Linked DNA regions of Homo sapiens: region 2 is linked to region 1. The links come from fine-mapping of genetic effects on gene expression. A gene starts in region 1. The other region holds a variant in brackets. All regions are shown on one strand. Distances are from middle to middle.

Region 1 (15,069 bases):
AACGATGGACATTCGTCCAGAAGGAGCTACAAGGAGCAGGGAGGAAGGAAACAGGGACATTGCATCTAAAAGCATCTCTAGTTCAATTTGGGAAGGAGAGCAATGGAAAAAGCCAGACGCAATATAACAGACACCACCTTAAAGGTATCAAAGAGCTATCAAAGTAGTGGAACTGATGGACCAAAATCTGAGAGAGGAGAAGGACCAATGTCTGTGTAACTGGAGAGAGGACAATATATTTACAAGTTAGGGGTGTGCTTTGCGTTCTGCAAGTATTTAGGTGGATTCATTTTCTCTAGCCTTGCAGTCTGGGGACTTGCCTAGATTTTCCTTAGTCTCCCTACCGTTTGCTTTCTTTTGGTAGATGGGTGTTTTCCTTTTGTAGATGGCATCAGCAGAAACCAACCAAAGATTTTTCCAGTACTTAATTGTTCCTAAATTCATCCCTTAATATCCATCAACATTCCTGACTCCTGGAGAGCTCTTGTTATTAAGGTGGCACAATTATAATATCTTGATGTTGGAATGGTTAAAAAAAAATCGTTGGTGGGAGTGTAAATTAGTTCAACCATTGTGGAAGACAGTGTGGCAATCCCTCAAGGATCTAGAACCAGAAATACCATATGACCCAGCAATCCCATTACTGGGTATATACCCAAAGGATTATAAACCATTCTGCTATAAAGACACATGCACATGTACGTTTACTGCAGCACTATTCACAATAGCAAAGACTTGGAACCAATCTAAATGCCCATCAATGATAGACTGGATAAAGAAAATGTGGCACATTTACACCATGGAGTACTATGCAGCCATAAAAAGGATGCGTTCATGTCCTTTGCAGGGACATGGATGAAGCTGGAAACCATCATTCTCAGCAAACTAACACAGGAACAGAAGACCAAACACCGCATGTTCTCACTCATAAGTGGAAGTTGAACAATGAGAATACATGGACACAGGGAGGGGAACATCACACACCAGGGCCTATCGGGGGGTGGGGGTTAGGGGAGGGATAGCATTAGGGGAAATACCTAATGTAGATGACTGGTTGATGGGTGCAGCAAACCACCATGGCATGTGTATACCTATGTAACAAACCTGCATGTTCTGCACATGTACCCCAGAACTTAAAGTATAATAAAAAATAGATAAATAAAGCTCCTTTGCTACATAAATACTCTTTTAAAAATATGAATTTGAAAGTTATATTCAGAAAGCTTTTGTCATTTATCAGTAAGTGTTTTGAGTTGATGATCATTTTATTTTTAATGATAAATCAATATCAATTAAAAATGATATTCAGAAAAAGACTGTCGGATTAAATCTTGGCACCTCAGTAAGACTCAAAGAAGGGGGGGAGAGAGGTGATAACAAAGGTGATTTAAATCAGCAATTTTGACCAAAATGCAATAACTGAACCTGAAATTGTCCCATTGGGATGGAAGTTAAGTCTTCAGGAACAGTGTGATCCTTTTGTAGAGCTCACACTGAGTGAGCAGGGACATGAAGAGGCAGTTTATTTGGAGACATGAGACAGTCCTAGCTCAAAGTTCATAGACAGAAGCCTCCTGGGGTATGAAATCAGCAGAACACCTTCTCCTGTGCAAGCTCAGTCTTAAGAAAGGCCCTTCAGGGACTTCAATGGACAAAGCCCAGGCCAAATCAAGGGTAGAGGAGTGGAGGACCACTCAATGACTCCCACTGTGTTGGGGGCCACTGTATCCCCACCTCCTGTCATGCTGGTCTATATCCCTTCTGCATGAGGCTGCCCTTGCCAGCTCCTACCCATAGGCTGAGTAGAGTCAGACTATGGCTTATGTGTTGATAAATGAAAATGCAAAGGCAGTTACCCTGGGTAATGAAATTAAGCAAGTTTAATTAAAAACAGAAACAACACAGAACAACGTCCCCACCCTTTCTCTCCCCAACCCCAACCCTTCCCAGTTTTGGAACCAACAGTCAATTCAGCACATTTCAGGTCTTTTTGCAGATATCCTCAGCCTACGTAGAAGAAAAATAGCCCCTGCTATTTAATTGTTCATCATTCAGGTGAAATATTACCCTTGAATTCAGGAAAACCTATAGACCCAGTTACCTGTACACAGTCACATGGAAACATGACCCATCCTTCTGCCTGCTGTGATGATGAGTGCCCACTCTAAGGCCTGGGCACAACCCAAATTTCCATCTAATGGAAGCAAGGTGACAGCTTCAATACGAGCAAGCAGCCTCAGTTAACGGTGGGGGCACCATGTTCAGTCATGGAAGCTGCATTTATCACACACCCTGACTTCCCCGTTCCACGTACAGTTCTGTCCTCATGTCATGTGTATTTACCAGGGTCCTCACTCACTTTCCCAGTGCTGACATAGAGTAGGGGCTTACATCTGATGTATGGAATTGATCAAAGCCTGATTCCTATGGGCCACAAGAGATGGACGGGCCTCCCTCTGAATCACACAAAGAATTGGAAGGGGCTTATTGGAAAGCTAGCCTCGGGACTGTCTGCATGTCACTCAGCTAGTGGGCTGCTGAATCACCTTATTCCTGGAGAAAGACTTTGGTGCTGAGAAAACAGTGACTTTCTTAGCTCTTGCTAAAACTGAAGGGTTTAGCTCTTTTAAACTTTAAAATGTGGAATAGGCAGTACAGCTAGGAAGCTGAATGGCTTCCAGGCCCTCCTGGGGGGAGCAGGACTAGATAGAGTCTCAGCCCTGCTGTTGCGTAGATATGCAACTGCATGTAGGTTACTCAGGCTTTTAGAGCCCCAGCTTCCACACTGGCAAAATGGGTATAATAATATTCACTGTGCAGGGCTGTTGTACTGAGAAAGACAATATAGATGTAGCATTGAAGCTTTGCTGGGCATGGGGGAGGCGCACACTAAATGCCTCTAGATATCTTTACCCACTGCCCTCCAATAGAATTGTTTCTTCTTGGGCCATTGAAAGTGCTGCAGATATTTCCTAATGATAAACTCTTAAGTACTGCTCAAAGAATGCATTGTCTTGTTTAGAACTTTTAAGAATAATATATACTATAGTGGAGCAAAAATCTGATATGATCTCAAAATATGTAAAATATTCAAAATATGTAAAATATTCTATATACTGCACATATAGAAACTGTGCAGTATCTATATGTGTAAGTATTTAGTCCTAGTTCATGTTTGTCACATAGAAGAGTTTGCTTGTTTTTTAGCTAGAGTTGATCCTAGGTGTTGGCATCTAAATTTCCAAGTGATTGCTATTCCCTCCTGGGTTTGTTTGGCACAATTGGCTGAAGGCAAAGGGAGAGGGGGGCTGAGAAGAGGGACTAGAAAGAACTTTCCAGCTAAGATTTATGCTATAAGAGCCATTGTCTAGTATTGGTTCTAGGAAATAATTTGGTAATGAGCTTTTTTTTTTTTCTTTTTTTTCCCTAGAGCAATTTTGGAACCAAGACTCAATTCGGCACATTTCAGGCCTTTTTGCAGATATCCTCAGCCTACATAGAAGAAAAACCAGGGTCTTTCCTAAATTGGAGGAGGGGAGTCCAGGTCCACAGTTAAATGAAAAGCCTAGGATATTTCAGACTGGTCTGGCTGAAATTCAGCCTGTATCTGGGGACAGATACTAAATTATTTTCAGGCAGAGAATCAGCAGGAACTCAAAAGCTTTCAGACTTTCTCTCTCCATCTGAGAAGTATTTCTATCTTTTTCAATTTAATTAGCAGGAAAGCAAAACACAAGGTGGTGGGTGGGGCAATTTCCCAAAGACAGGAAGAAATACAACAAATCACTGATTTGTTCTTTCCTTCTGAAGCCTCTGGGTCAGAGTTCCAGTCTTCCCTTCATGTGAACCCACAGAAGAACTCTGCAGAGCCAAAACTCTTCATCTTATCCCTCTCTGGTCAAGCCAGGGGTTAAGGTTCAAATCCAGGCCCTGGAACACCAGTTGGGTAAGAGAGCTTCATGGAAAAGGCAACACACCTACCACATCCCTTCCAGCAGTGTTTGCTAAGTTCTTTTTTTTTTTTTTTTTTTTTTTAGACAGTTTCACTCTTGTTGCTCAGGCCAGAGTGCAATGGCACAATCTCGGCTCACTGCAACCTCCACCTCCCGAGTTCAAGCTACTCTCCTGCTTCAGCCTCCCGTGTAGCTGGGATTACAAGCATGTGCCACCATGCCCAGCTAATTTTGTATTTTTAGTAGAGATGGGGTTTCACCATGTTGGTCAGGCTGGTCTCGAACTCCTGACCTCATGTGATCCACCTGCCTCAGCCCCCCAAAGTGCTGGGATTACAGGTGTGAGCCACTGCTCCTGGCCTGCTGAATTCTTTTAATGTCCAGCTGTGTTTGTACTGTTCAGCACACTGCTCCACAGCCGGTGTTCATCATTAGTGTCACTGGGGATAAAGTTGGCAGAAAAAAGCTGCCCCAATCCAAAGCATGATTCCTATGGGTCACAAGAGATGAATGGGCCTCCCTCTGAATCACACAAAGAATTGGAAGGAGCTTAGGGGAAAGCTAGCCTCAGGTCAGAATTGCCTGCATGCCACTCGGCTAGTGAGCTGCTGAATCACCTTATTCCTGGAGAAAGACTTTGATGCTGAGAAAACTGACTTGCTCAGCTCTTGCTACAACTGTGACCATCTCTGCAACAGTAAAGTAAAAACAAATACCTCTCTTGTTGGGTAATAATTTGTAAGTCATTGCAAGGAGAACACAAAACTGCTGCTGATTCTTTCCTTCTGTTACATACTTTGGTGGAAATGGACACATTGTCACTGCTTTTTTAAACTGTTGTAGCCAGATCTCAGGCATTCTCAGCATTGACCCCTTCCTGCTAGAGGATTTCCAAGGGTTGGTATCTGGGTGGCTCCAAGGTCCTTTGCGTTTTCAGTAGAGGGTATTCACTGTATCTAGGAACCCTTTCCTAGGCTTCAATAATTATCTTTTAATGGCTTGGTAAAATGGTGTTGAACTTAATCAGCAACACTGCTAAAAATTAGTTCAAAGAAAGCTTTTCAAGAAGGTTCCCCTTACTTATAAATTAAGTCCTCCATACCCCTTCTCAGATTGCTACAAAGGACCGCCAGAAATCATGTTGCTTGTTTCCTACCGAGAGAGGTCATCCCCATCAGGCTAGCGCTAGAGAAGAGGGTCAGCATCGGGAGCCTGGGAACAAGGGCAGAAGTGAGGGATGGGGAGGCAGCATTCTTACCTTTCCGGGCCTGCTGGATGTATCTTGCCAGCAGGGCGCCCAGGTGCGCTCGGGACTCGCCATCCGTTCTCTGCGATACCCTCAGCTGCCTACGGGGCGCCTCCTCTGCCCGCTGCAGCCCGGAGCCCGCGGGATCTGCGGGAGGCACCGGCTGCGTCAGGGCGCCAGCCGCCAGTACCGCCATCAGCACGCACAGGCACACGCCGCTGTTCATGGCTGTAGCGAGCAAAGGAGGAGGGCGCGTTAACTGAAAGGCTGGGCAACAGAGCTCCTGCGGCGGGCCGGGCACCCAGAAGCGGGCTTAGGACAAACACAGGTGCTCCAGACCCGCCAGGCCGCCGCAAGCACGAGGGCTCGCCAAGCGCTGACCCCAGCCGAGTGCCATGGCGCGCGCCCCCGGGCGCACCTGGCTGGTCTTTGGGAACTCCTCACCCAGCGCCAAGGGGCAGAGACCCTGTTTTCTGCCGTGTTGAGCAGAAGGAATGTTTTTGCTTTCCTAAAGTTTGAGGAAGTGTTTGCAGAGTGCCTCTCTTCTAACCGAAAGAAGAAAAATAAAACCCCACGAGATTAAAAATAGTGTGAAAAAAATATCCTAAAGGGAAGACTCCGTGGGAGAAATGAGAACCCTGGGGAAAGCACTTTTCCAGATAGCTAACAAGCTTTCAATATGGAAATACAGTAAATGATGAAAAAGAGAAGCACAGTTTAAAATGTAGGAGCAATAAATAAAGCCGTATTTATAAAGTTTTTCTCAAAGTGTACGTGGGAAATGGCAATAAGCCACTACGCAGAACATAGGCAGGTTTTAAAATCAGAAATATGTGCCCAGCGCTCAGGCTTCGAAAGCCCCGTGCATTTTAGATCGCTAGTGGATAAAACACCCTCAAGTTTCTATCCGTAAAGCCTCGAAATTTTCTGCAGTATTTAGAAAATGAATTTAAATCTTAAAACCCTCTAATATTTTATTAGAAAAGATTGCAAAGTCCCCCGCACCGCTGTGTAACAGCTAGCAAACTCAATCTGCATGCGAATCTTAGCGAATGGGTAGTTCATCCCTTAATGATGCTGGCGTATGAAAGGCTCTAAAGCAGCTCTACCCACCCAGACCTCACTTTTAGACCCAGAGCCGTTATTTCTGACTTCAAGAAATGTCTTTCGAGCTCTCGGAGGGAAGACACAGAAAATAGAAAAGCATAATGGAAATGGGCACAAAGCTGAAGACAGCATCCTTCAAAGACACACGACACTTGGATCCCCCGCTGACGAACCGAGGGACCTACCTTTTGGATTAGGACGCAGCTGGCTTGGCGTTTCCAACCGGAGCAGCCCGGCAGCTGAGCCAAGTTCAGGGAGGACCAGCGGGCGGCTGTCTCTTAAATAGCCCCACCCGGCGGCGTCGGCCAGTCATGTATTTACCCAACGCTGACGCAGACTGGCAGTAACACGTGCTCAGAGGGCGGCCACTGGGGCGACAACCGGTTGAAGTGGCTCCTGGGAGAGAGGGGGAGGTGGTCTAGTGGGGTGGAGTTAATCCCTCCCACGCGCGGTGCCGGGTGTCCGCCCCCTCTGGGTCCGAGAAGCTTCCGCCCAACCCTTTCCAGGTGCCGCTCCCCTGCGCATTCCAGAGCAGTACTCTCCAAGGTGGGAAACCTAGGAGTTTGGAGTCTCCTCCGGGATGGAGAAGCTGCCGCTAGCTTAGTTCGCTTTGGGGACCGGAGGGGCTAGAAAGGAAACTGGGGGCGGGGGTGGGGGGTGGACACTGGGCAGGACTGAGCATCAGCAAGGCGTGATTCTGAAAGGGAGGGGGCGTCGGCCCCCTACCCCGGAGCGTCCGAGGCGCTGGTCTTCATACCTGTGTCGGCTCTTTCGAAGGAGAGAGGAGGAGTCGGGGTCTTCACTTTCTTCTCAGCCGCATTAAAAGCCCTCGCAGTTCTCCAGGTTTCCGAGGGCCAGTGTTCTGGGTCAGTGAAAGGGCTCTGGCCACAGCTGGCTCTTGGTGTCCTGGGCCTCTCTTGACGCAGCTGTAAAATGCGGATGACACCATCTGGTTTTGCTCAGAGGAATCCGGTTTGGGAAAGGGATGTGTTTTCTTCCCGGGCCAAGTTACCACCACCCGCGGCGCCCACTGTTCCCCGTTGTCGACAAGCGGCGCCAGCGAGGGTCCTGGGGAACTTGACCACCGCACCCCCGCAAGCTCGGGTAGACCACGGCATCCGCCCCTCGCACCTTTCCTGAGGGCCCACACACTCACACCCCCAGGACAGTACCTTCCAGAACTCAGCTGCGCAGCCTGGAGGTGAGGACCTCACCCCTAGTCAGTCACCCGTCCGGTGGAGGGAAGGGAGGCACCGAGGCTGCCGTGCGCCTTTCCCTGCACGCGGTTACTCTCCCGGCTCCGGAGCGGGCCGACCTGGAGCCCCTCAGTGCGCTCTGGTCGTCTACACCCTGAAACCCTTTGAGTTCGAGTCCGCTTGCTGGTGCTTGAGTTCGCCGCGTCCCTGCAAAGGCACTGCCAACCCCATTTCACAGACCGCAAACCGAGGCGCGAGGAAGAGCAGCGCCTTGCCAAGGCTCCACAACACGCCCCTCGCCCTCTCCGTGCACCGAGGCCGCCCAGCCTGGGACCTGGAGATCACCAGGCCTTGAACCTTGGGACCTCAACTCCTCTCCCTTTCTTTCCCCCACCCGTCTTAGATGCAAGGAGAAAGATTTAGAAGCGCTTATTTTAAAATCGGAATCCGTATTCCGCTCTGGAATTCCCTCTGGAATGGAGGGACTGTGGCAACGCCAGTGTGAGGGTGGAGTGGGCGAGGCGGGGTGGGGGGGTTGGGGGGGCGGCCCAGAGACGCCTCCGGTTGCTGCTCCACTTTCTAATCCTGAGAGGCAGCTGCGTTTCTGCAACCTATGGGCAACATGTTTGAAAGAGCTGAAGCTGATTAAATGCTTTCCAGTGGTTTCGCCACGAGCCTGCTAAGGTTTGTGTAGTTCAGTTGCGAAAAAGAGTCTTATTTGTGATTGTGGCAAGACATGTCTGGAAACATAAACTTGTTATCGAAATACCCCCAGAGCTTCTAATTCAGTAGGTCTGAGGAAGGGCCCAAGAATCCGAATTCCTTCCTTCCTTCCTTCCTTCCTTCCTTCCTTCCTTCCTTCCTTTCTTCCTCCTTCCCTCCTTCCCTCCCTCCCTCCCTTCCTTCCTCCCTCCCTCCCTCCCTTCCTCCCTCCTTCCCTCCCTCTCTCCCCTTCCCTCTTTCCCTCTCTCCCTTCCTTCCTTCCTTCCTTCCTTCCTTCCTTCCTTCCTTCCCTCCCTCCTTCCTTCCTTCCTTCCCCCCTCCCTCCCTCCGTCTCTCCTTCTCCCTCTTTCCCTCTTTCTCTCTCTCTTTCTTTCTTTCTTCTTTATTTCTTTCTTTCTTTCTTCATTTCCTTCCTTCCTTCCTTCCTTCCTTCCTTCCTTCCTTCCTTCCTTCCTTCCTTTCCTTGCCTTTCCTTCTTTGAGACAGAGTCTCACTCTGTCGCCCAGGCTGGAGTACAGTGGCATGATCTCGGCTCACTGCAACCTCTGCCTCCCAGGTTCAAACGATTCTCCTGCCTCAGCCTCCCCAGCGGCTGGGATTACAGGCATGTGCAGCCATGCCTGGCTAATTTTTATATTTTTAGTAGAGACAAGGGTTCACCATGTTGGCTAGGTTGGTCTCGAACTTCTGACCTCAGGTGATCTACCCACCTTGGCCTCCCAAAATGCTGGGACTACAGGCGTGAGCCACCACGCCCCACCAAGAATCTACATTTCTAACAAGTTCCCAGGCCATACTGAAAATGCTAGTCCGCCAAGCACACTTTGAGATCATTTCTATAGAAATTCCCTACCTTATACCAGTTACTCAACTCCTGGCCTTGATCCATTTAATTCATGTTTATTCAACACTTACTTTGTGCCAGGCCCCAGGGATTCAGTATGAACAAGAGCTGACAATACAATAGGGGAGCTGAAGCAAACAAGTGGACAAACACTTCTCAACAATTCTGATATTTGGGGACTATGGAGTGGAGATGGTAGGAGGTAATCTTGGAGAAATGTTTTGGTGAGGGGAGCTAGGTGGTAATATGGAAGATGCCCAAAAGGCAGAGGGACTGGAAGGGGAGGGCTGGATAGGAGGCCCTCGGGGATGGGCAAGCAGGAACAATCAAGGTAGATTTGTTTTAGAATAATAAGCCATTATGAAACCCATTAATTATTAGGAAACATAATAAACATTATGCAAGTCATAAGTGTTCATCAGAGAACATTCAGAAAACAAAAGTAGAGAAAAGAAGAAAAATTCCAGCCTCCCAGGGAACAACCTGTTGCTGCTCAGGAAACTGGTAGAGGGAACCGGACTTGGTGACTGAGACTGACCTTGAGTTTCCAGGCTGGGAGACAAGGGTGGGTGGTAGAGTATTATCCAAGACAGGGAATTCAGAAGGAAAAGCAGGCTTGGAGTGTGGCCGTGGTGGTAGTGGGCCAGTGGGGAGCGGGTAATGAGTCCAGTATGGGATTGGTTGATCGTTTGTGCATTGACAGTCTAGGAGGAGTTTGGGAGCCTTTGTCCTGAGCAGAGAGACACTGGAGGGGTGGACCCAGAGTCTGGCATGTGGGTGGTGGCTGCCAGCCTGGGAGTTATAGGGAGAGTTGAGGAAGGCAGCTAGCAATGGGTGGCAGGGTGCCTCTAGACAGACCGCTGAGGAGTGACAGCGTGAAGGAGTGGGTGGAGGAAAAAGAGCTGGTACAGAACCAGACAAGTGGGCCAAGGAGGCCAGCGTGGAAATGCCAGTGCAGAGCCAGAGGTGACAGGGACCATCAGAAGCTGAAGAAGGGCTTGTGCATGGGCCTTTCTCATTTACGATCAAGAGAGCTGCTTGCCTCTTTATTGTAAAATAAAGCAGTTGTAGCCGCTTGTCTCTCAGGAGTGGAAATTCTGAGCAGGAAATGTGTGATAGAAGAGCTGCTAGGAAAATAGAAAGACATAAGGGATCTGAACTCCTTGGCCATAGTCATGATTTTTCCTTCTTACAGGGTCAACAGGTACTAATTATTCTGACTATGGTTCCTAAGCAAGTTAGGCCTGGAGCCGACACTATTCCTGTAATCCAGATGCATATCCGCATTAAAGATAATCCATTTGTTCACTTAAAAAAATGGGCTTGATGTCTCCTGAGGCAGATGCCTTTGGTGCTCCTCACCACAGTTCCACGTTCTCCCTCTGGCTTCAGCTGCAGCCTAGCCAGGCTGGGCAGTTTTCAGCAGACAGCATTCCCACTTCAAGCTTTCAAAGCACCCCTCTTGGCTTATCTCCTTCAAAGTTCAGCCCTTGCAGAGGTTCAGCCTGTAAGTTTGGGTGTTATCTCCCCGAAAGACAATCTTCAGCCAGTGGGGAATGGGAACCCCAGTCTCTCTGTATGAACCCTTCTGGAAGCTTCTAAAGACTTCTCAACGGTCCTTTGCCTGTATCGGTGAACTTGATAACAGCTCTCTCTCTCTTTTTTTTTTCTCTCTCTCTCTCCCTCTCTCTCTTTAGACAGGGTCTTACTCCGTCACCCAGGCTGGAGTGCAGTGGTGCAAACCCGGCTTCCTGGCTTAAACAATCTTCCCACTTCAGCCTCCTGAGTAGCTGGGAACACAGGTGCACACCACCATACTCTGCTAATACTTTAATTTTTTGTAGAGACAGGGTCTCACCATGTTGCCTAGGCTTGTCTCAAATTCCTAGGCTCAAGTAATCCTCCCTTCTCAGTCTCCCAAAGTGTTGGGATTACAAGTGTGAGCCACCAAGCCCAGCTGATAACATCTCTTTAGTTGTTTTTTCCTCCTTCTTTGTCTTACTCTTCTCATTTCTTCCTCCTCTCCCAAATAAACGACATGTACTCAAGTCTGTCTAATTTTAGTATAACCCTATCAAAGACACCAACTGTCTTTCGGGCACTGTTGGGATTCAGTGGTGAGCAAGACAGACAAAATCCCTGTGCTTGTGATGCTTCCATTCTAGTGGAGGAGACAGACAATTTAAAAAATACACAGCAGGCATGGAAGGTGCACACATGTTTTCAAGAAAAGTAGAGTAGGGGGAGGGTCTGTGGAGGACTGGGCACCCGCATGAACGTATGCAAACCACTGCTGGGGGATGCCCTGTTAGGCTGTCTGCTGTGTAGACCTTGCTATGTATGTACATTATGGAGAAATGGTTTTGCTTTTCAGTCCAAATAGAGAAAAAGGAAGTTGTATGGGAGTTCGCACTGTTTGGAGATTGTTTTGTATTTCATCAAATGTGAGACGGTAACTAACTTTTCTGCCAAGCTCATTCTCTTGTCTCAGAAAAGGAATGGAAAAGGCAGTGCCCTCTGTGTCCTTCCCACCACCACCCACTCTTCCCCATCATGGAATGAGACGCACCAGCTGGTCCCTGCCTTTATCTGGAGGACTGAGAGTGGAGGGTGCCATATCCAGATGCCGCGTTGGAAAGGAAATAGTGGAGAGAGGAAACCTGTGACTGTTCACTGGTTTGGAGTCTAGAAATTCCCATCTGATTGCGGTGAAATGAATTTAAGTAAGATCTTGCTCAGAGTTGGGGAGGTATCCCCGAAGATTAGTTCCTGAAACAGATATATTTTCAATACACGATTTTTTTAGTCATGAGACCTAGCTCAAAGACATATGTCAATTTTGTATGTGTAGAAAACTTAGTGGAATTTCCAGGGACATGCTAGAGCCTCCTGATTTATTATTCATAGAATTTAAGCTTGTTACAAGCAAGCCCCACTTACCAGAAGGCAGGAGGCTATTTGCTGTGATCAGAAACGTGATGGTTAGAAGGCTTCTTTTTTGGGTCTTTTTTTTTCCTGAACATGTATTAAAATATTATTATTTGTCCTGGAATTTTTCAAAGTCCACATAGCCAATATCATCTGCCAATATCTGGAATGATTAGACTGAAAAAAGGGAAGTAACTATGGTCATGGTGAAGTGTTTCCTTTTCCTAACGATGAATTTCTTTAGAATATCTTGTCATAGTTTGGGTTCCTACAAAAGCAGAGCCTGGGACAGCACCTGGTTACAGGTAATTTATTTGAGAGTGATTCCAAGGGAGCAGGAGTAAGGGAGAAGGGAAGAGAGAAGACAGTGAAGTATTGAGTACAGTGGATGACTGCTGTGGACCCAATCCCCTGGGGACTCTCTGAGATACCTCTTGGAACATGGCTCATAGCCAGCCTACTTGAGGCCAGAAGGAGAGCCGGAGCACCAACTCCCATTTCCCATTAGTTGAGGGCTGTTCCAGCAGGTGTTAGCTCCCTCTCACTTCCAAATAGGCTTACCTGCTCCTGCAGAGCCAGAGAAAGCCCTCAGGCAGAGAAGAGATAAGCAGATGGCTGAGGTGGGAATAGCTACATGAGAGGGAACATGAAGGGGAAATCAATAGTGGCTGTGTTACTGTCAACTCAGGGTGCTATAACAAGTACCATGGACTGGTGGCTTAAACAATGGACATTTATTTTTCACAGTTCTGAAGACTGGGACATTTGAGATTAGGGTGCCAGCATGGCGGGGTCCTGGTGAAGGCTCTTTTCCTGGCTTACTGATGGACTACTTCTTGCTGTATCCACACGTGGCAGAGAGAGGGAGGTTGGGGGGTGGGGAGAGAGAGAGCAAGAGTGCTAGCTCTCCGGTGTCTCTTCTTATAAAGACATTAATCCTATCATGAGGGTCCTCCCCCATCTGACTTCATCTAAACCTAATCACCATCACCTTCCAAAGTCCCCACCTCCTAATACCATCACATTGGGGGTTAGGGCTTTGTACGAGAAAATCAAATCTCGGAAATCTCAAGATCCCCAAACTCATTATGTCAAGGGGAGAGTTAAGCCTAGAGACTGAGCCATGCAACACTGCCTTTCTTTTTCCTGAAACAAACATCTACAGAGAAGCAGACGGCTGAGGTGGGAATAGCTACAGGTGAGGGAACATAAAAGGTACATTAACAGAGATTGTGTCACTGTCACCTCAGGATGCTATAACAAAATACCACAGACTGGGTGGCTTAAACAACAGACACAACCCTGTGTTTTCATAGCTTTATACATAAGCCAGGTTCCCACAATGATGAACGGCCTTCCACCTCTCTGGATGGTCACCCTCACAAATTGCTCACAAGGGAATTCCTTGCAGGTCTCTAAATCATTCAAGACACATATCCCCCTGTAAAACAAGCACACACCAATTGTAACTTTAGGTCTGTAAGCCAAGTTTAACTCCTAAAACTGAGCTCTCTTCAATTTTATCCTGACAATGTCGTTTATAAGCTTATCTTCCCAGGTACAAATGAAATGGCTTGGCTGTGTCCCCATCCACATCTCATCTTGAATTCCCACATGTTGTTGGAGGGACCCAGTGGGGGGTAATTGAATTATGGGGGCAGGTCTTTCTCATGCTGTTCTTGTGATTGAGAATAAGTCTCATGAGATCTGATGGTTTTATAAGGTTGATTTTCCCTGCACAAGCTCTCCCTTTGCTTGCTGCCATCCATGTAAGATGTGACTTGCTCCTCCTTGCCTTCTGCCATGATTGTGAGGCCTCCCCAGCCATGTGTAAGTGCATTAAACCCTTTTTCCTGTATAAATTACCCAGTCTTGGGTATGTCTTTATCAGTAGGGTGAAAGTGGACTAATACACAAGGACAAGATAAGATCAATCACTTTTCTGCCTGCCCTGAGATGGCTGCATCATCAACTTTTTCCCATACTCCCTCTTTTCAGATGTTTACCTTATGTAGAGTGTAGATTATTTGAGCATCAATCAGAGCCTCAGAAGTAGATAGCTGTTTGCCTCACTGCCTACACCCTTCCCTTCTTTTCTCCTGCTTGCTCCTTCCCTTTAAATACTGAGTTTCCTGGAAAGGACAGGTTGCAGATGCTTCTGTGGCTTGTGTTTTTCCCAGGTGCATCCTCACACTTTGGCTCAATAAACCTGTACTGGGATTTAGACACTTGCCACAGTCACTCACTTTTTGGTTAACAGTTTCAACATATGAATTTGGGGAGACACAAACATTCCGCCCATAACAGAGTAAAACATCCCTGTAAATTAACATTTTATTTGTTCACTGGCATTTCTATAAGGTTGGTGGAATAAAGGAATCCTAAATCTGGGGTGGACCTTGAGGACCCTCTTGTTCAAGGGTCACAAATTCCAACACCACCCAAGGGAGTGAAGAGGGCTGTGGGTGAGAAGAGCAAGAGAAAAAGCACAGAGATCATGGGCAAGTGAAGCTATGGGTGGTGGTTAACCTCCTGGGGCACTCTAGGGGCCAGAGCAGAACGTGGGCCTCAGAGCCATCTCACCCTAGGGTGCGAAGGTGCGTGCATGTCTATACATCAACTCCACTCACTCACTGGCTAAGGGAAGCTCCTGGGGCATTCATTCCCTAGCACTTCTGGCCCACTGAGGATCCAGCCCCCAATGGAAGCCTTCAGAGAAGAGGTGCAGATGCTGGTGACCAGAAGCTGGGCCTGCAAGCACCATGATAGTGAGGCCCGAGGGAATATGAGTGGGGCAGCCACGGAGCCACTACACTCTCCTAACACTTTGCATGTACTCAATGTTAGCATTTACCATATTGTATCTTAATTTCCTACAATAGGGCTTGGGACATAGCTGCTCAATGAATATTTGTTGAATGAACTCTTCATCTGTATGAACGTCTCATCTGCCATCTGACATGCAGGAAAGCAGGAATTGTGATTTATTCACTCAAATGCAAGAATTGTGCTGGACACATGCTAAGTGACCAATAAATGTTCACCAAATTCAGCTGTTAGTTTCATCAGTTT
Region 2 (15,069 bases), 35 kb after region 1:
TGCCTGCTGCCATGTAAGACATGCCTTTTGCCTTCCACCATGATTGTGAGGCCTCCCTAGCCACGTGGAACTATGAGCCCATTAAACCTCTTTTTCTTTACAAGTTGCCCAGTCTTGGATACGTCTTTATCAGCAATGTGAAAATGGACTAATACACTAGGTAATTTATAAAGAAAGGAGATTTATTTGGCTTACAGTTTTGCAGGCTGCACATGAAGCATAGTTGGCATCTGCTTCTGGTGAGGGCCTTAGGAAGGTTCCAGCCATGTTGGAAAGCAAAGGAGAGCCAGTGTGTCACATAGCAAGACAGGGAGCAAGACAGAGAGGAAGGAGGTGCCAGGCTCTTTCCAACAATCCAATCTCACGTTAACTCATAGAGTGAGAACTCACTCATTACTGGGAGAACTGCACCAAACCATTCATGAAGGATTGGCCCCTATGACCCAAATATTTCCTGCTAGGCCCACCTCCAACACTGGAGGTCACATTTCAACATGAGATTTGGAGAGAACAAAACATCCAAACCATATCACCCACAAGTAGATGAAGCTGTGCTGTATTTTGTATTGAGATACTTGCAAAAGAATTGTTCAGTACACATCAAGCCATGTACCTACAGGCAGAAGAAATTGCCAAATTCCTTGGATTAGATAAAAGAAACTTCAAGGCAACAAGAGGTAGGTGTGACTGATTTATGCATTATGCAGGGTGATTCTCAAGGAATTATGTTTAACAGCAGTATTTTTTTCCTTTAGTGTTTTAATTTATTTATTTGTTTATTTATTTATTTATTGAGATGGAGTTTCACTCTGTCACCCAGGCTGGAGTCCAGTGGTGCGATCTTGGCTCACTGCAACCTCTGCCTCCCCAGTTCAAGTGATTCTCCTGCCTCAGCCTCCTGAATAGGTGGGACTACAGGCAGATGCCACCATGCCCGGCTAATTCTTAGTAGAGATAGGGTTTCACCATGTTGGCCAGGCTGGTCTCAAACTCCTGACCTCAATTGATCGACCTGCCTCAGCCTCCCAAATTGCTGGGATTACAGGCATGAACCACGGCGCCCAGCCCCTTTAGTGTTTTTAAAATAGTGGTATATCTTATAATCAATTGAGTCTTAGAGTCCATGAAATACAGTACATTGAAAATGACACATAACTATTCATTAGCAGCAAATGCTGTCATCACCTATAAAATACATTTAGCAATTGTACACATAACAGGCTCCCCTGTCCCCACAAAACTCTCATACTTCCTTTGTTCTTTGGTCCCTCCTGTAAACAATTCTACAACTAGACAAAACCTATGAGGCAAATGTTTTCAGCACAATGCAGCAGACAATGCAAGTCTCTGATTCTTGAAAGAAGAGAAATTCACATTTGTCCCGGTCCTGGAGGCCCTTCCCAGACTGCAGCAGGAAAGTTGAGCCCCAGTGGAACACAGGGGTCTTTCTGGGTGGAGAAGGCAGAGAATGACATTTGGGGTGTTTGGATTTAGTAGGGAAGGGTGCTAAAAGGAGAGAGTGCACAAGGCAGAGCATTCTGGGCTGTCCATGTGCAGAGCAAGGCTGTCCTGGAATGCAGAGAACTAAGTCAAGATCACAGAAGTAGTGAAGTCCTGGGAAATGTTTGAGTTCCCACACAGTCAGTGTTCAGAGACTTTGCTGAGCACCTCAAGCATTCAGTTGAGATGTCGGAAAAGCCATAATTTAGGAGTAAGGACCACATTCTGGATTGAAGGCCATGTTTCTAGGACTATGGACAAAACTCGAAATACATTGGCCCTAACAAAACCTACCAAATTCTGACTGCATCAAGAGAATCTACCAGTCATTTAACCACCAGTCAGAAAAAACTTAACATTTTTTTTTTGTTGTTTTTTAAGGGAAGACAACATAGTTCAGACTTTGTACAAGGTATCATTTACAATGTCCATCATATAATCAAAAATTATCAGACATGTGAAGCAGGAAAACAGGAACCATAATCAATAGAAAAAGCACTAAATAGATACTCTGAAATAACCTATGTGTTGAAATTAGCAAACGATTTTAAAGTTGTTATTACAAGTATGTTTGAGGATTTAAAAAAAAAGGATTACAAAGTGAGAGAATAGAAGGGTAAGAAGATAAAAATTTTAAGTTATTAAAAATATGCCTAAAATTTTAAGAAAAGATGGACACAATGAGTGAATAGATCAGTAGACCAGAAATTGAAAGAATAAAACTAAAAATAATGGCCAGGCACAATGGCTCATGCCTACAATCCCAGAACTTTGGGAGGCCTACCGCTTTGGGAGGCTAAAGCAAGAGGACCATTTGAGGCCAGGAGTTTGAGACCAGCCTGGGCAACATAATGAGACATTGTCTCTATTTTTTTTTTTTAAAAAAAGGCTGGGTGTGGTGGTTCGCATTTGTAATTCTGGCACTTCGGGAGGCTGAGGTGGGCAGACTACTTGAGCTCAGGAGTTTCTGAGCATCTGGGGCAACACAGGGAGACCCCATATGTAGAAAAAAAATGTAAAAATTAGCTGGACATGGTGGCACGCACCTGTAGTCCCAGCTACTTGGGAGACTGAGGTGGGAGGATTGCCTGAGCCCTGGAGCTCGAGGCTGCAGTAAGCCAAGATTGAGCCACTGCATTTGAACCTGGATGACATAGTGAGACCCTGTCTCAAAAAAAAAAAAAAAGCAAACAAACAAACAAAAAAACAAAAAACAACCAAATGAACAAACAAAAAAAATCCCCGAGAAACACAACAACACAACAACACCGAAAAAAATAGCTCTGGGTTACTCAGGTTACAAGAGTAGTGCCCTGTGGTGGTTAAGAGCACAGACTCTGGATCCAGACTGCCTGGGATCAGATGCTGATTCTTCTCCTTAGCTGTGAAAACTACTTATCCTTTCAGAGCCTTCATTTTGTCATCAGTAAAATGAGGACAAGAACAATAGTGTCTTCCTTTTGGAGCTATTGTGAGAATTAAATGAGATAAATGTAAAGTGCCTCTCTCAGTGCCTGACGCAGACTAAGTATTATTTTTTAAATTATTTCAACTTTTCTAGGGTTCATCTCAGAACTGCAGTGCAACACCCTCTCTTTTTTGTGGCCTTCAGAAGGACCCCCATGTCTCACGTTTGGGCTTAGACCAGACTTTGACAAACAGTTGACTTAGATAACTAAGGTAACTTAGGTAGCAATGGCCACATGCATATGGGACATTTACCAGGGTTTTTGAATTTGTTCAACCTCTCATTTTCCTCCAAGTGGGAAAAATGTGAGATAGTGATTAGGCATGTGTTGATGGGGGTGGGGGAAATAAGTAAGAGAGAGAAAAGAAGAAAAACTCCACAATCAAAAAATGGCCTTATTCCTTAAATTGCTTTTAAATTAAAAACATTTAATATCAGCTTCAATTTTGAGGGGGACTTATTTAAAATGTAGGTCCAAATGCTTCTCTTTTTCCCAGCTGTCAGGAAAATGTGTGTGTGTGTGTGTGTGTGTGTGTGTGTGTGTGTGTTTCTGGGTAAATGTTTCAATTTTTACTGACTTCCTTATAACGTTGGGTGGCCAGGATGCTCCTTGAAATTAAAGTTGGTCACATTGTTTAGGCTGTTCATGATTTGAAGATGCTATCTGAGACTCTATTCTGGCTTTGGGGGTTAATAAAATAATTTTAGCTTGCTTTATCACATCTTAATAAAGTTACTGACTGTTGAGCCAGGCAGAAATATTAATGTAATGAAAAAACAACTGTGCTACAGTATTTCTCAGTTGAAGCAGGGATTTTCCAATGCGAATAAGTGAAATAAACCATGCAGGTAGGTATAGAGGTGCCATTTTCTTAAAACTTTGTCTTAACGTTCATCTAGTCAGTGCCGCCTTTCTAATCACCTCCAAAAGGTAATAGGTAAAATGTAAAACGTGTAAATTAGGAAGATACAGCTACCATTACAACCAAAATCTATAGATACATGGACTGGAAACATAATAGATACATATGGTGGTGAGCTGGGGCTAAAGGTATAGGCATCAGGCCTCCAGGTGCAGAGATAGGCAACAGCAGCACTTCCCATTACTCAGGGAAGTGCAAGCTAAAATTGCTCCATACAAGGCAAGGCTCCAGATCCAGGGTCACCCATGCAAGCCACAAGCTGGTCTGGGGTTTCCTTGCCTGAGAAACAAGGTGAGGAAGGAAAATCATTCCCCATCAATTCCAGGAATTATGTCTTACTTAATCTACCTTCCCAGGGTGGGCAGAGGAAGCAGACAGAACTTCACAGCCAGGACCTGGACCAAGCCTGGGTAAATGGATATGCAGAGTCTCTAATATCATCACAAGGCAGCTGGATGTCCTGGGAGGATGAGCAGAGGCAGCAACAAACCAGTTAGTAGGAAGTAATGTACTTGAGGGATAGGGTGAGAGAGGGAGAAAAGAGAGAGAAGAGGGACATCACTTCGAGACAGGCTAAAAAATAAATTTGAAAACACCGAGGAAAATCAAATTCTAAGAAAAACAGCAATAAAATCAACAATCAAGAGATGAATTCATATCAGATAAAATGAAAATACAGTTGACCCTTGAACATCATGGGGTTAGGTACACTGACCACCCCCCCCAGCCATGCAGTCAAAAATCCACATATAACTTCTGGTTCTCCAAAAACCTACCTGCTAATAGCCAATGTTGACTGGAATCCTTATCAATAACATCAACAGTTGATAAACACATATTTCGTATGTCATATGTATTATATACTATATTCTTACAATAAAATAAGCTGGAGAAAGAAAAATGCTATTAAAAATTATGAAGAAGAGAAAATATATTTACTATTCATTAAGTGGAATTGGATCATCATAAATGTCATCATCGTTGTCATCTTCACTTTGAATAGGCTGAGAAGGAGGAGTAAAAGGAGGGGTTGGTCTTGCTGCATCAGGAGTGGTGGAGGCAGAAGAAAATAAGTGGACCTGAGCAGTTCAAACCTGTGTTGTTCGAGAGTCAACAGCTACAGAGCAATCTGAACACTACATATGCTGAGAATTCTCAAGAGATGAATAAATAGCTGTGGAATGAGAAATTACTGAACAAAAGCAAACAGAAGTGAGACCAGGTAAATATGCTAAGAACCAAATAGAAATCTTAGAAATTGAAAAATAAGGTCATTGAAATAAAAGTCCTATGGACAAGACAAACTCTAATTTTATACTAAGCACTTGGAAAATTAGTCCTAAAGGGTGAATCCAGAATATAGCACAGAAAGAGGGAAGGATAAAACATACACACAAAAACAGGGTAGTTTGACAGTCTTTAGCAAACATCTAAAAGGAGTTCCAGGCCAGGCACAGAGGCTCCTGCTTGTAATTCTGGTATTTTGGGAGGCAAAAGTGGGATGATTTCTTGATGCCAGGAGTTCGAGACCGGCCTGGGAAACATAGCAAGACTTTGTCTCCACAAAAAGGAGGAAAAAATAGCTAGGCATGATGATTCACCTACGTACTTACTCAGGAAGCTGAGGCAAGGGGATTCCTTGAGCCCAGGAGTTCGAGACTGCAGTGTGTGTTATCACACCACTGAACTCCATCCTGAGTGACAGAGCAAGACCCTGTCTCTGAAAAATAAATAAATAAGTAAAAGGAGTCCAAGAAGTGAGTTAGAAAAATGCAGCAAATTAATATTCTAAGAAAATGCTTAGAATTTTCTAGAATTAAAGAAAGACATAAGTCCCTGAATTCATAGTATGTACTAAAAATTATGCAGGATAAAAATAAATCCATATGTAGACACATTTGATGAAAACTGCAGAACATTAAGGATGAAGGAATTAAAAAAAATTTCAGAGAAAGAAAATAAAAATCATGCAAAATAACTATAATGAGCTTGACAATCAGTTTCTCAACAGTAAAAATATTAATAAATTTCAGGAAACAACAGATTAATGTCCTTAAGGTACTGAGGAAAACTAAATGCCAATTTAGAATTGTGCCCCTAGCTAGGCCCCTGATCCTGATGAGGGTCTCTAGGAAAATATCAAGCCACTCATCCTTTCCCCAGCCCACATCAGGCTAACTGTCCAAAGATTTACTAGTGGTCTGGGAACTCAATCATTTAAATCCAAGAAAAGGATGACAAGACATCTCTCTCTGCCTAAACCCAGGGCAGTAGAACCATCTTACATACCATTGTTTGGCAACCAGGGGGAAGAAATTATTATGGTTCTGGGGCCAAAAGGACTGGAGGGGAACAGAGGACTTCTCAAACTCAGCGACCTTCTGAACTCAAATAACCAAACTTGGAATCCACCAGTAAAATTAAATCTGGCAATCTTTCTAGGACTTTCTTCACTTCAAGTTATTCTCACATAACTTCTCTTCAAACTTTCGTCATTGCTATGTCTGATCTATAGGAATAATAGTGGGACAAGAGGATAATTAACTTTCTTCACTGAAACCCTTTGAGACTACCCTCTGTTTCTTGCTGGAACCTGGCAGATCCTCCTCCAAACCAACGGAAAGTTAGGAGTGTTCTGTGACAAAGAGGAATGCCTGGAACCAGGATTGAATACCACCAGCAGTTTGTCTGTCTCTGTCTCTGCCTCTTACATCTCACTCTAGATCTGTTTTTGACACTAGGCCAGAGACACAGGGACATGGATAGCACACGAATAGAGCATTTGAAACAAGATCCCCTTGGCCTGTCTAGTTTCAGCACTGCAGTGGAGGACAGTTCCCTGCTGTGACCTGCTTCCACACAAAACCTCAGGCTTTCACATCAGAGGCAGGAGATTACTTAGCCAGGTGCAGGCACATCCCAGAAGTACAAGGGAGTTACCACTCCCAATCCTCAGTCAATAGTTGACGAGATCGTGTCCCTGGTCCTCTTTTGGGGAGAAAATTGGAGGCACATTTTACATAGTTCCTCAGAGGGTATGCAATGGATTGAGCCCCAGTTGCCCAGAAGTTCACTAATGCCACCTGTCTTAGTCCATTTTGTGCTGCTATAACAGAATACCTGGGACTGAGTTATTTATTTACAAAAACCCAGAAATTTATTTCTTACAGTCCAAGATCAAGACACCAGCATCTGATTAGGGCCTTCTTGCTGTGTCCTTAGATGGCACAAGGCAGAAGAGGGGAAGCAGGAAGAACTCCCATCATCAAGCTCCTTTATAAAGACCCCTAATCCCATTCATGAGGGAGGGGCCTTCATGGCCTAATCACCTCTTAAAGGCACTGCCTCTTAATACTATCATGTCACTGGCAACACCTGAATTTTGGAGGGGACACATTCAAACCATAGCACCATTTGTTGGCTTGTCTCCTTTACCTGTCTTACTTTCCCTTTTTCCTTACATCTGTCTCCTGGGATCACCTCACAAATAAACCTCCTCACTCAAATTCTTGTTTGAGAGTCTGCTTTTGGTAAAACCTAAACCAGACAGAAAAGCTTTCATCTTTCTAGTACAGCATATGGTATGTCATCTTCTGAGAATAAGGGAGAAAGGTCACAGTAGGATGACTCAAGGGAGGTGAGAAACATCAGTGGGGTGGTCATGAAGGGGTCGGTTAAGACTGGAATTCATCCTCTTGAGGAGAGTCTAGCTACGACTGTGTCCACATGGCCCAGGCCAGGAGAGAGCAGGAGGTGGTTGAAGGATGGGAAGACACGTGATGGGAAGGACCTCCAGACACTGCTTCAGGCTGTGGGTTGAGTTTAATTTTCTACATGTCACTTATTTTGGGACCCAGGCTGGATGGGAGGTAGCTTCCTGGGGAATGCTGTTCTGATGACAGATGGCAGAAGCCGAAGAAAGCAAACCAAACCATGCAAGTACATTTAATGCCTTTGGTTGAATGGGCATATGGTACCCCTACTCACATTCCAAGTCACAGATCAAACCCAAAACCAGTGGAGCAAGGGTGTATACATGTATACATGGCCAACAAGAGAGCCTTGGCAAGGACAACAAAGGATGAGGAACAAGTAACACCATCTTTCTGTCCAGCCTACAAAAGGCATGCAGCTGGCTTCTCCCTTTTTCCATAAAGGCACAGGGACACCAAGTGTTGCTCTCTGATGACTGACCGTATCAGCCACATCCCAGCCCCCAAAAAGTCACTTAACACCCAGTTTCCCATGAGTCACTCAAAAATGAATTCCTGAAGTGGTCTTTAAATCTGTGTTCTCACATCCTGTTCCAACCAAGCCTAAACTATGTGCTTCTCTACTTGGCAGTAAGGATCTAAAA[C/T]AAGGCAGAGGGAATGACATCAGGGTGTAGGGTTTCCTTCTCTTCTGCTTTTCTTTGAGTTTAATAATTTTGCAGAAGGTATGTCTCCTCCTTTTGGTATGAGGTTAGAACTGGTTGAATACGCCCTGACACTATGGAGTCACTGGGCTCCCATGAAGGGTCCTGATGGGAGTGGAACCCAGATGGGGGATGTGGCAAAATACTTTACTCATGACAAAGAATGGTGTCTACATCACCAGATTATTGTGGTGTGCGTGTGAGTAGGTGGGGACACACACATGCACACACTGTTCTTTTTCCCTTTCTTCTCCCATTATTGCCTCAGTAGTTGGTAAGTTTTGGATCTGTGTTCCCACTCAAATCTCATGCCAAATTGTAATTCCCAGGGTTGGAGGTGGGGCCTGATGGGAGGTGACTGGATTAGGGGAGGTCTCTAACGGTTTAGCATCATCTCCCAGTGCTGTTCTTGTGATAGAGTTCTCATGAGATCTGGTTGTTTAAAACTATGTAACACCTACTTGCTCTCTCTCTTCCTCCTGCTCCAGCCATGTAAGACATGCCTGTTTTTCCTTCACCTTCCGCCATGATTGAAAGTTTCCTGAGGCTTCCCCGGAAGCCCCTATGCTTCCTGTACAGCCTGCAGAACCATGAGCCAATTAAACCTCTTTTCTTTATAAAGTACCCAGTCTCAGGTGTTTATAGCAATGGGAGAATGGACTAACACAGTGATACTAACAAGGAGGTAGGCTGGCTGTGCCTCAGAGTCAGGAGAAATGGGATGCAATTGTGCATGGACTTGAGAAAAGCATTTGATAAAAACACAATTCTTAGCATAGCACAGAGATGTACAATGTGTATTAATTAACATTTTAGGAGTTGTGGATATTAACTTTCATTGATATATAGTGTATGTTTCATAATACTAATGCAGTCTGTTAAAAATGAGGTTTCAACAACGGTTTCAGGTTTTCAGGAAAGAAAGGAATTATGGAAACTTTTTCTGGTGTGTCTTCCTGCAAAAGTAGGTCTCATTACTTCCACTGACCTTGAGAGAACAGATTTGGCGAGATCAGAATACTTGCCAAAGGCCACACAGTAAAATGGCAGACTGGGGACCAGGGAGGTGTGAGGTTCAATGGTAAAAGAAAGGCCCAGCATAAGCTAGACCTGTTTTTGAGTCACAGGGAATTTTAGCTAGTGTCCCTGTGAATCAGAAGCAGGTCTAGCATGTCTCCTCTTTCTCTTGGATAGAATAGTACTAAGAAAGGAAGAAGGATAAAGAATCTCAAGTTGTGGACTTTTAGAGAGACCAAACCTCAAACTTATCACAGAAAGTGATTATGTAATAGGTTCCACCATTCTGTCATGAGTATCTGTTATCATATATCTAAGTCTCACAGGTCAAGGCAAGAATGGTGATATTTTATTCATCAGTACTTCCCTCACCCTCAGAGTGGTTTTCTGTTCTGTGAAGGTCAAGGTTTCTCTCCACTCTGAAGAAATTAAAAGCTGCCATCGTGATTTTCCTGTGAATGGGGAGGGCAGGCCCATGGCCTTTCCTCCTGCTGCAGAAGGAAGATAGCAGAGGCAGAGGCAGGGCATTCGCCTTTCCACCAAAGCTGAATCTTTTTCCTCCAGATGAATGAGAACTATGGGAGTTCACAAGAGAGAAAAGCTCTGTGACCCTCCAGGTGGCAGGAAGTGGAAGAGGGGTTTTTTCTTCAGACAACAGTCTTTCTGATCGGGCATGCCAGCTCTTCCTGTTCCTCTTTTTAGTGGACTGTGACAGCTTCCCAGCATGCTCTTCTGTCCTTGTTCTGCCAATATAACTCTTCTTCACTTTGGGAAAACCAGTCCATATGGTTTGGATGGGCCTATAATTCTCCTCCTCCCTACCCTCTCAGTCCTAGTCACAGGATGAACAGTGACCACTGATGTTGCCAATCAGAGCACCTCATTCTCTTGGTTGCAGTGATTGGTCCACAAATGAGCACTTAATCCAAGCAGAAACAATCAAAGTTCTTCCACAAGATTTGTTATATTAACAATGAGGCAGCTGCCTCTGTCTTTATCTTGGATAAAGTAAGATGAGTGAGTCTGCTTTATAATGCAGCCAGCACAGAGGATTGAGAGGGGTGAGAGAAAAGGAAAGGGACAGAAGTTGGACAGCATCCTTTAACACCTGAATCCATCTATGCCTGAATGGAGACCAATTACTGGATTTCCTGCCTATAGTAGTCAATAAATTCTAATTCTGTGCAAGCTCATTTGAGCCACGTTCATGTTACATTCAATTACATTTGAACCTTGACTTCTATAAATTCTGTACTGTATTTATCCAGGTGAATGGTGGAAGAAATCTTTTTTTCTTGGGGTGGGAAGGATATTTGTGACTAGAATCAAAGATTCACACTCCTCCTTGGAAAAGGAAATGTGCATACATTGTGTTGATTATCGTCTTTTCCTGCCATCTTCTGCCTTGTGCTGGAGCTAAATGCAATTTGAGCCTTCAGTCTGGAAGGCTCTGGAGTTGTAAAATGCTCAAGGTTTTCACAGTCTCTCTCCACTGCTTCCCCATGCTGATGGAGAGAGAGTTTTAGATCTCTTCCCCTTAACACACAGCTGGGATGCTGCTGGGAAGGAAACAGTTCGTGAACCCCATTTCATCTCAGCAAACATTTAGAATGCGTAAGACTTAGCTGTGGCCTTGAGAATGTCTTGGTGAGGGTGGGGGGATGATCATCCATATGCATGATGTTGAATGTCCTCTTCAGAATATTCACCTATGAAATGTCCCTTGTACTGAGCCAGGTCTGCCTCTCCAATGTCACAGGGTGGCCCACACACAGCTGAACTGCAAGCGTGGTGCTCTCTGGCAGGAACAAACTGCAATCTACTTGATTTCTCTGAGCCCCATTGACAGTGAAGTGGCTACATGATTACAAGGAACTAAGGCTGATTTACAAAGTAGGGCTTGTGCAAAGATGTTACTACTGTGCTTTCAAGCTCTGAGGACTAGGGAGACAAACTATTGGCTTTACAAATTAGTAATACAAGCCTTCTGAAATTAGGCCAGGTCTGAAATAAGTTGAATTAAGAGCTAATAAGGATTTTTAAAACAATTATACCTTCATTAACATATAATTAAAGTACAATAAACTACACATACTTAGAATGTACATCTGTCTACACCCTTGAAGCCATCATCACAATCAAGGTAACAAATATTTCCATCTCCCCTCAAAGTTTTCTGGTGCCCCTTCCTTCCTTTAACCCCCTCCCCATGCAACCCCTGATCTCTTTTCCATTACTTTTGATTAGTTTCCATTTTTTAGAATTGCTAATAACAATGTCAGAGTAAGTTTAAAACAGTGTCTAGGCAGGACCGGGCTGCCTCCTCTGAACAGGTGGGGAAAGCTCCCCTGAATTTGTCCAGTTGAGGGCAGAGGCACTCTCTGCCCCGCTCTAAATTCCTAGTTTTCCTCTCACTGTCCCTTGAGAAACAAGCCATATGCTAGCTGGGGTGGTGGTGTGTGATATGGAAACTTTGCAATAGGAGCTAGCGAGGAAGAGCCAAGCATATTAGGGGGATGGAGTGGAAGATGAGAGGAATAACTTGAAAGGAGGGTGAGAGGTAGACAGGGACTGATCCTGGGCACTACACCTTTGTCAAGGTTAAAATCAAAGAAATGAAATTTAAACTCAAGCACAAGGAATGTAGGAGGATTGCCTTTAAATGCCAATGTCTCTAAACAATGAAGCAAATTGGTAGCAGAAATGGTGAAGTTGCTCCTTGTGGCATTCCATTTTATTTTAAAAAGATATATTCTTATCTTTATGACTCCAAGTAGCCATGGTCCAGTCTAAAGGCAGAGGAATGGACTAAAGATATTCTAAAATCTCATCCAGTTCTGACTGTCATAAAGGTTAAAGTGTTTTACATAAACAAACTTTAAGAGTAGCTGGCCGGGCGTGGTGGCTAACGCCTGAATTCCAGCACTTTGGGAGGCTGAGGTGGGTGGATCACCTGAGGTCAGGAGTTTGAGACCAGCCTGGCCAACATGGTGAAATCCTGTCTCTACTAAAAATACAAATATTATCTGAGCATGGTGGTGCACGCCTGTGATCCCAGCTACTCGGGAGGCTGAGCTGGGAGAATTGTTTGAACCTGGTAGGCGGAGGTTGCAGTGAGCCAACATTGAGCCACTGTACTGCACTCCAGTCTGGGTGACAGAGCGAGACTCGGTCTAAAAAAAAAAAAGTAGCTAATTGAGTGAATATTTATTTATTTAATTTATTTATGAGACGGTCTTGCTCTGTCGCCCAGATTGGAGTGCTATGGCACGATCTCAGCTCACTGCAACTTGAGTGAACATTTAAAAGTGCCTGAACTTAACTTGACAAGGTCCATTTTGAGACTGTGAGTGGTAAAGCCTTTGTGTCAAGATCAGCAGTGATGTGGGACACGGGTCTGTTCCGCATGCCAGCTGCAGTGTGCACACTCTGCTGCTGTCCTGGGACTAGAGATGGGGCAAACATGACCCACCATTGCCATTAATAAACGTAATTTATTACCAATGCCTTTGAAACATAATTTTAGGCTCAATAAGTAGCATCATTAAAACTGTAAGAAGGTATCATTAAAACTGATATTACTTACATGTACAAATAAATCATGCTCAAACTTCCCCCATATATTCTCTCTCAAGCAATAAAAAAATTGATGGATACAATTCTATTGTTGAACAAATATCAACTCTGATATCTTGGCTCTCTTCAATGTTTCAGGGCTACAGGTGGTCACTGTTTGCTATCTGAAATATCATTTTGTTTATCTTTTATAAAGCCACATTGCAATTACATTAGAAATTAATGTCAAATGAATTGGTAATCAATTCTTGAGTGCCTCCTCATCTGGGGAGGCGGTGGAGTACTGGGGGAAGTACCCTGAAGTCATTAAAGGTGGAAAATTCTCCCCTTTGTGGTTTTCCTCACTTTGTGGTGTCAGTGTCTGTGTGCTTGCTTGCTTCTCGAACTGATCCCCAAGGCAGAGGCCATGCCATATTTGTCTTTAAATACTTAGTAGCTAACCCACTGTTAACACATAGCAAGAGCTAAATGAATGTTTATTGAATAAAGGAATGAATGAACCAGAGTTGCTACTGTCAAATATTCATATTTTTTCTAGCTTTTTCATAAAATAGATAAGTGTTTAAAATATTCATGAATAGATTCCCCCCATGGGTTCCTTATTTCCTTAAAGTATGATTCCATGAATTTGATTTTTGAATTAAGGAATATATATTTTATCTTTTTAATGTATTTAATATTGCTTTTAAAGCTGATTTTAAAGTCAATTTATAATTGGAACATCATCAATAATGGGACAACGATTATTATAATACATAGACTTTATGTGTCTCCTAATATAATGCAGTTTGAAATACATAGTGCTATGACATATTTTTTCCCAACATTTTAACCTTAATTTAGAAATAACTTTTAGTCTCAGAAGATGAGTTGTTCTATAAGACATCTGTCTGGTCAGGTCTCTTCAATTGGTCAGTGTCATGAAACAATAAAAAGGGGGGAAAGGGAGGATATTCTAGATGAAAAGAGATTTGAAAGACACAACAACAAAGGCAATCTGTGGACCTTGATTGGGTGTTTGTTCAAACCAATTAGCTAAAAAGTCATTTGGAGAACAATTGGGAACATATAAATATAAAATGAATATTAGATAATATAAAGGATTTTTTTGTTTGTTCGAGACTGAGTCTCAGTCTGTTGCCCAGGCTGGAGTGCAGTGGTGTGATCTCAGCTCACTGGAACCTCCTCCTCCTGGATTCAAGTGATTCTCTTGCCTCAGCCTCCTGAGTATATGGGACTACAGGCATGCACCACCACGCCTGGCTAATTTTTTGTGTTTTTAGTAGAGACAGGGTTTCACCATGTTGGCCAGGCTGGTCTCAAACTCCTAACCTCAAGTGATCTCCCTGCCTTGGCCTTCCAAAGTGCTGGGATTACAGGTGTTAGCCACCACGCCCGGCCAATGCTTTTCTTTCAGGTTGAAGAAATCCCTTTAGCGTTTCTTGTGGGACAGGTCTGGTGTTGAAATCCCTCAGCTTTTGTTTGTCTGGGAATGTCTTTGTTTCTTCCTTCGTGCTTAAAGGATATTTTCACCAGATATATTACTCTAGGGTAAAAGTTTTTTCCTTCAGCACTTTAAACGTGTCATGCCACTCTCTCCTGGCCTATAAGGTTTCACTGAAAAGTCTGCGGCCAGTCATTTTGGAGCTCCATTGTATGTTACATGTTTCTTTTCTCTTGGTGCTTTCAGGATTCTTTATCTTTGACCTTTGGGAGTTTGATTATAAAACGCCTCGAAGTAGTCTTCTTTGGGTTAAATCTGCCTAGTATTCTATAACCTTCTTGTACTTGAATGTTGATATATTTCTCTAGGTGCGAGAAATTCTCTGTTATTACCCCTTTTAGTAAACTTTCTACCCCTATCTCTTTTGCTACCTCCTCCTCAAGGCCAATAACTCTTAGAGTTGCCCATTTGAGGCTACTGGCTATTTTCTAGATCTTGTAGTCATGCTTCATTGTTTCTTTAATCCTTTTTCTTTTGTCTCCTCTGACTGTATATTTTCAAAAAGTCTGTCTTCAAGCTCACTAATTCTTTTTTCTGCTTGATCAATTCTGCTATTAAGAGAATCTCATGCATTCTTCAGCATGTCAGTTGCATTTTCAAATCTAGAATTTCTGCTTGATTCTTTTTAATTATTGTAATCTCTGTTAAATTTATCTGATAGAATTCT

The links.
Region 2: its variant is fine-mapped to the expression of CCK in fibroblasts (GTEx, PIP 0.99).

What each region holds. Positions count from the first base shown.
Region 1 is chr3:42,258,206-42,273,274 of GRCh38, forward strand. CCK (cholecystokinin) reads right to left here and starts at 7,980. Exons shown (of 5, transcript NM_000729.6): 1 at 7,479-7,980; 2 at 7,064-7,232; 3 at 6,492-6,702; 4 at 5,212-5,427; 5 at 1-26. The coding sequence starts at 5,425.
Region 2 is chr3:42,293,461-42,308,529 of GRCh38, forward strand. No RefSeq gene overlaps it. Among named protein-coding and RNA genes, the nearest start is that of CCK, 35 kb to the left of the region's middle. The variant C/T (reference allele first, on the strand shown) is at 8,249.